Regions from separate parts of the Homo sapiens genome. Here region 2 is linked to region 1. Evidence: fine-mapped expression QTL. A gene starts in region 1. The other region holds a variant in brackets. All regions are shown on one strand. Distances are from middle to middle. Region 1 holds the start of GLRX3 (glutaredoxin 3). Region 2 overlaps LOC124902561.

Region 1 (2,902 bases):
CCAGCCCCTTCTGTTCTGAGGTTACAATGGGTGATGGCTCTGTGGGGCTGCAATGAGTGGCGGCACGCGCGGAGGGCCAGGGGAGGAGGGACATGCTGTGGGCTCCGGGTTCAGGTCCCAGGACTGAATTGGAAGCACCCTGTCTGTGTTGAAGTTCAAGATCTACCACTTCTGTTCCCAGACCTCCCAGTTCTTCCTCACCTTTATGCAATTTCATTTTTGATAATTTCAGCTTCCTAAATGTACACATCTGACTTCACTTTCACTCACATGTCTCACCCCCACCCCTCCACCGGCCCCTTCTATTACAGACCCAGGAGACACAGGAAGTGCAAGGAAGGTCTGGAGCCCCAAAAGCCAGGAGCCTCAGGAGTCAGGTGTCCTGACAGCCAGGAACCCTGACACCCAGGAGCCCTGGCACCCAGGAACCCCAACAGCCAGAAGCCTCTACCACCAGGAGCCCTGACAGCAAGGAACCCCGACACCCAGGAGCCCCTACTACAGCCAGGAAGCCAGGAACCCTAACACCAGGAGCCCTGACACCCAGTCACCCCGACAGCCAGGAAGCCAACAGCAAGAAGCCTCTACCACCAGGAGCCCTGACAGCAAGGAACCCCGACACCCAGGAGCCCCTGCTATAGCCAGGAACCCTAACACCCAGGAGCCCCTACAGTCAGGAACCCCGACACCCAGGGGTCCCGACAGCCAGGAACCCCGACACCCAGGGGTCCCGACAGCCAGGGGCCATTACGGCCAGGAGCCCCGACAGCCAGGGACCTCGACGGCCAGAATCCACTACATCCAGAAGCCCTTATAACCGGGAACCTCCATAGCCAGGAGCCCCTACAGCCAGGAGCCCCTTCAGCCAGGGAGCCCCGAAAGCCAGGAGCCCCGACAGCCAGGAACCATAACAGCCATGAACCCCGGGAGCCAGGAGGCCCGCAGCGGAGTGCCCAGACTTGGCAGGGTCAGAGCCCCCCAGCGGGATCCAGAGCCCGCCGCCGAGGCCCCTTTTGGGATTTCTCAGGCTCGGCAGCCTCAGCGCAGGCAGGGGCGGGGCTTTCCCTCGCGCAGCCGCTCAGCTCCCCGTGGCCCCGCCCACATCCGGCCGCCGGCACTGGATTGCTTCTGTCTGGCGGCGGCAGCATGGCGGCGGGGGCGGCTGAGGCAGCTGTAGCGGCCGTGGAGGAGGTCGGCTCAGCCGGGCAGTTTGAGGAGCTGCTGCGCCTCAAAGCCAAGTAAGCGGGGCGGCGAGCGGTAGGAGTGAGGAGCCGGAGCGGGAGCGGCCGCGAGACCGGGCCGGTGTGGGGCGGCGGGTGGCCCAGCCTGGCTTCTTGGTGCCCGGCTCCCTTCGGCCTCGGGGGACCGGGCCCGGCGCCACCCGTAGACTCCCCCGAGCCTCCGCGTGAGTGGCCCGAGCCGCAGGTTCCCCGCCCCGGAACAGCGAGCAGGGCGCGAGGCTCGCCTGGAAGCCCCGGCCCCAGCCCTGGCTCCGACCCCGACGGCTGTCCAAGCCCGGGGGACGCGACCTTCCCGGCCTCTGGCCTGGGCGGCCCCGCCGCGGGACGGAGGCGGTGGTGACTCAGCCGTGCCGCAGTGGCGGGGCGGGGGACGGGGCGGCGCCGAGACCCCGGCCCTCCGCGCCACGGAGCGGGACCCACGGCTGCGGGCTCCACCTTTCCTGTGCCCGCCGGGAGGGAGCGGCAGGCTCGGCGTCGGCCCATTGCTCTTCAGCCTCCCTTCAGGAACGCCCCTGTCGCAGGAAGAGCGGCGAGGGAAGGCCCCGTTGCATTAGCTAGGCCTGGCTGCCTTTTGAAGTCAGCCTTTAAAGTTTGTTGGACAGCAGGTAGCCTCAGTCTTCAGACTTAACCTGTTGCCGGAGACAGAGATTTCCTGTTCCATGAACTGGTGTAGTGAGAGTCTGTTCAGATTTGGCGCCGGTGTCCAGGTCTTCAATCCCTGGGAAGACTACAAAAGGAGATCCAGAGGAATGCATAGAAAGCGTTTTCTGGGTGGACTAGAAGCTCTGAACTGCAAGCATGCTTACGAGTAAATGCTTACTAGCGTGCGTGCCTGCAGGGAAAGGTCTGCACGTGGACTCTCCGTGATAATACCACCTCACATTGTAGACTACTCCAAGGACTGAGTTGTTCTCTTAGTTGTATTATTAGCGGTTGTTATGGGAACTCTTATGTCGGATTGCCTGGGATCCAGTCCCACCGCAGCCACTCAGTAGCCATGTAACCCCTGGGCACGTTTCATGCCCAAGCCTCAGTTTCCCGACGGTGACATAGATTAGCACCTGTTAGTACCTCAGGGTTGTTGTGAGGGTTAAATGAGATGACGTATGTAAAATACAAATAATACAATGCCTAGTATGCAGGAAGCACTCAGTAGATGTTGGCACTTAGTATTTCAGTAGGAAGTAGAATGGTTCATGGAATTCACAGGCAAAAAGCTTTGTTTTGTTTTGTTTTTGAGACAGGGTCTGGCTCTGTCACCCAGGCTGCAGTGTAGTGGAGCGATCACGGCTCCCTGCAGCCTCCGCCTCCCAGGCTCAAGTGATCGACCCACCTCATCCTCCCGAGTAGCTGGGACCACAGGTGCTCACCACCACGCCCGTCTAATTTTTATTTTTTTTTATAGAGACGAGGTCTCGCCATGTTGCCCAGCCTCGTCTCGACCTTCTGGACTCGAGCGATCTGCCCTCCTCAGCCTCCCAAAGGGTTGGGATTACAGGTGTGAGCTACCACGTCCGGCCAGAAATGCTTATTGATCTAAATTTTGTTTTGTTTGTTTTCGAGACAGGCTGTTGCTCTGTTGCCCAGGCTGAGTGCAGTGGCGTGATCTCGGCTCACTGCAGCCTCTACCTCCTGGGTTCAAGCGATCCTCCCACCTCAGC
Region 2 (2,902 bases), 52 kb after region 1:
AATCAAAGGCTCCTGGTGGGTAGGAGCGTGTCCCATGTGCAGCACGCTTGGCTGTCCGAAGTTGCTGATGAGAAGCAGCATAGGATCTGGCAGGGACGGTCCTGAGTGGAGAGGCTGAGATGGGAGGTGGTGGCCCACGGTTAGCGGGCTGGATTTTCTGGGGCAGCCTCCATGCCAGCATTTTGTCTTCATCCCGGAACCCTGTGCACTGAGGTGCAGGAAGCGTGTGTAGTTTCACACACTTAAGTGTAAGAAAGCATGTTCCTGTTGAAAATAACACCCCGCTGGGCATGCTGTGGGGTGACGGCAGGTTTTTGCCCTCCTCCTGCAGCTAAGCACTGGAGCCCTGGGTTCCCATCGGGGCTGTGGCACTGTGCTGTTTCCCGGGCCACTGCCAGGGAAGGAGCCTCCTATATTGCTGGGCAGGGCCTGCGTGCAGGTCCAGGTTTATAAATTTTAGAGCTTGTTCAGAAAGCAGGCAAAAAGTGCTGTTGGAGGTGCTAAGATATAAAGGTTTTTCCCCGGGTGTGTATTATTTGCTACTTAATATTCTAAAGAAAAATTAGAACATTAAGTTATTAACATGAATGTTTCTGCTTTTCTTTGCACTGTGTAGTGGCAATTTCAAATGCAAATATAAGAGCATTTAACTTGTGTGTGGGATACTTGAGCTGGCCCATCTATGTCTATCTCAGCTTCTGCCAGGATGCTGGAGGCACTGCACAAAAGGAAATGCTCTTGATCCATGCACATTCCCTCAGCGAATGCTGCCTTAAGGCTAAGGTTACCATGAGAGAGAAGGAGCTGTGGGTTGCCCTCTCATTGCCTGCCTTCTGTGTCATCTTCAGTGTGAGTAGTTGGCTAGTACAGGCAAGAGACAAGGCAGAGAGGATATGATGGCTTCCTCCGTCATCCGTGTTTCTTAGAATGCAATTGCTCTCTTTCTGGGCTGGAAGCAAGTTCTCATGTGATTGGAAAGCGTGGTGCCAGGGCTGTCAGCTCCAGCTGTCCTGTCGTAGCTGGTTACATGCTGATGTTGCCCTCGCCTTGAGTCTTGTCACCTCCGATGCTGAGGCCCACTGGAACGCTGCTTCTGGCGCATCGCGAACCCTGCATGTTAGCCGGGTGGCAAGGAGTAGCCAGTTCTCTGCTCACCCACATGCTCTGTGGTGCCCCTGCACTAACAGCACGAGTTCAGATAAAATTATTAAGAATTTCGAGATGACGAAAGCAGAACGTGAAACTGAGTGTGGTCCTTCTGAGTGCAGGGCCCCATGGGACCGCACAGGTGGCAGGCCTGGAAGGCCAGCCCTGCTTCAAGGAGTGTGGCTGAAGGAGGTCGGGGAACTCAGGCCCTGACCCCAGGGTTCTCCTTTCCCGGAGATTCTGTTAAAGGGCCACTCACCTTAGCCATGATCTTCTTTGAACTTGCTCCGAACTGCTCGCTAGAGAAACACACACCCGGTCACCTGTGACCCCTTGTTCTAGGTGCATTCCTGCAGGGACATACTCTCCACCTGATGCTGAAACCACCACAGCAAACAGGTGCTGTCATGAATAGTTGACATGTATTAAGTCATTTAATTCTCACCACAACCCTATGAGGTAGGCATCTTCAGCCCCATTTGACAGATGGGGAAACTGAGGCATGGGTGAAGCACACTGCT[C/T]CTGGTCATAGTACCTGTTGGACCTGGGATTTGACTCTGGGCCTCCTGGCTGCAGTTTGCCCTCTTAACCCCTATGAGGTGTGAGGAGTCAGTGAATTGGCTCCTGTGGCTTGGGAGGGAGACATGTTCCTCTGGGTGTCCAGGGACAGCACTGGGTGCAGGGTGGAGTGCTGGGCTGTGGATGGGCCCATATTGGTCCTAATGGTAGGCAGAGAGGGTGAGGAGGTGCCCAGGACCGGCTTTGCCAGAAGGAGAGAGAACGCTGGCACCACAGGAGCAGCCCACCGTGAAGGCCATGCCCTGCCCGAAGCGCGGTGCCTATTTAGAACCCGAGGGCCCCCCAGCACGATGGCGTTTTGGGGGTTATTTTTGTTGGTGGGGAAACAAGCTCAGGAATTTGCCAAAGCTCTTATCCAAGGGGCGAGTGGCTCAGCCAGGGTTCATTACCAGGCTCCGGATCCTGCTTCTCCCGGATCACAGCAAGCGCTGTGCTTAGGCCTGGGGTGGGGGACGGATTCTCCCTGAAGGCAGGTCTGACGCGGGCGGGAGCACCCACCCCGCTGGGTTCTTACGGCGGATCCGTTACCTGGGTCTCCAGAGGGTGAGGTCGCCGTGGGCACCCTGGGAGCAGCAGTTCAGATAGAAATCCTCCCATGCCGTGTGCAAACACTAAGTTTTTTGTTTTGTTTTGTTTTGTTTTTTTTGAGACAGAGTCTCGCTCTGTCGCCCAGGCTGGAGTGCAGTGGCGCGATCTCGGCTTACCGGAAGCTCCGCCTCCCGGGTTCACGCCATTCTCCTGCCTCAGCCTCCCGAGTAGCTGAGACTACAGGCGCCCGCCACCACGCCCGGCTAATTTTTTGTATTTTCAGTAGAGACCGGGTTTCACCCTGTTAGCCAGGATGGTCTCGATTTTCTGACCTCGAGATCTGCCCGCCTCGGCCTCCCAAAGTGCTGGGATTACAGGCGTGAGCCACCGCGTCCGGCCGCAAATACTGGAAGTTTTAAGTCAAGCGAACAAACATTAAACTGTTCTGTCCTCTTACCTTGACAAATACACCTACCAGTGACCGGGAAGGCTGCCTTGTGAATTTAGAAAGTCCTGGGTCTTGGCAGCTTCAGGGGACAGATCGCCCCGCTCACGTTTGCCCCTCTTGCTTCCCACCCTGTTTCTGTCCCTTCCCCGGGGCCCTGGGGCACACAGGGGTGGGATCGGGGGTCCAGGCCGGGAAGGGCTG

Evidence for each region. PIP is the estimated chance that this variant, and not a neighbour inherited with it, causes the effect.
Region 2: its variant is fine-mapped to the expression of GLRX3 in whole blood (INTERVAL, PIP above 0.99). The same link has a PIP of 0.9 or more in T cells.

What each region holds. Positions count from the first base shown.
Region 1 is chr10:130,135,275-130,138,176 of GRCh38, forward strand. It overlaps GLRX3 (glutaredoxin 3), which reads left to right and starts at 1,117. Exons shown (of 11, transcript NM_006541.5): 1 at 1,117-1,238. The coding sequence starts at 1,147. LOC105378561 (a long non-coding RNA gene) reads right to left here and starts at 1,097. Exons shown (of 6, transcript XR_001747659.2): 1 at 1-1,097. RefSeq lists a silencer at 1,099-1,698 and enhancers at 1,899-1,948, 2,227-2,862, 2,863-2,902.
Region 2 is chr10:130,186,791-130,189,692 of GRCh38, forward strand. LOC124902561 reads left to right here. Exons shown (of 2, transcript XM_047426136.1): 2 at 1-2,902. Among named protein-coding and RNA genes, the nearest start is that of GLRX3, 52 kb to the left of the region's middle. The variant C/T (reference allele first, on the strand shown) is at 1,668.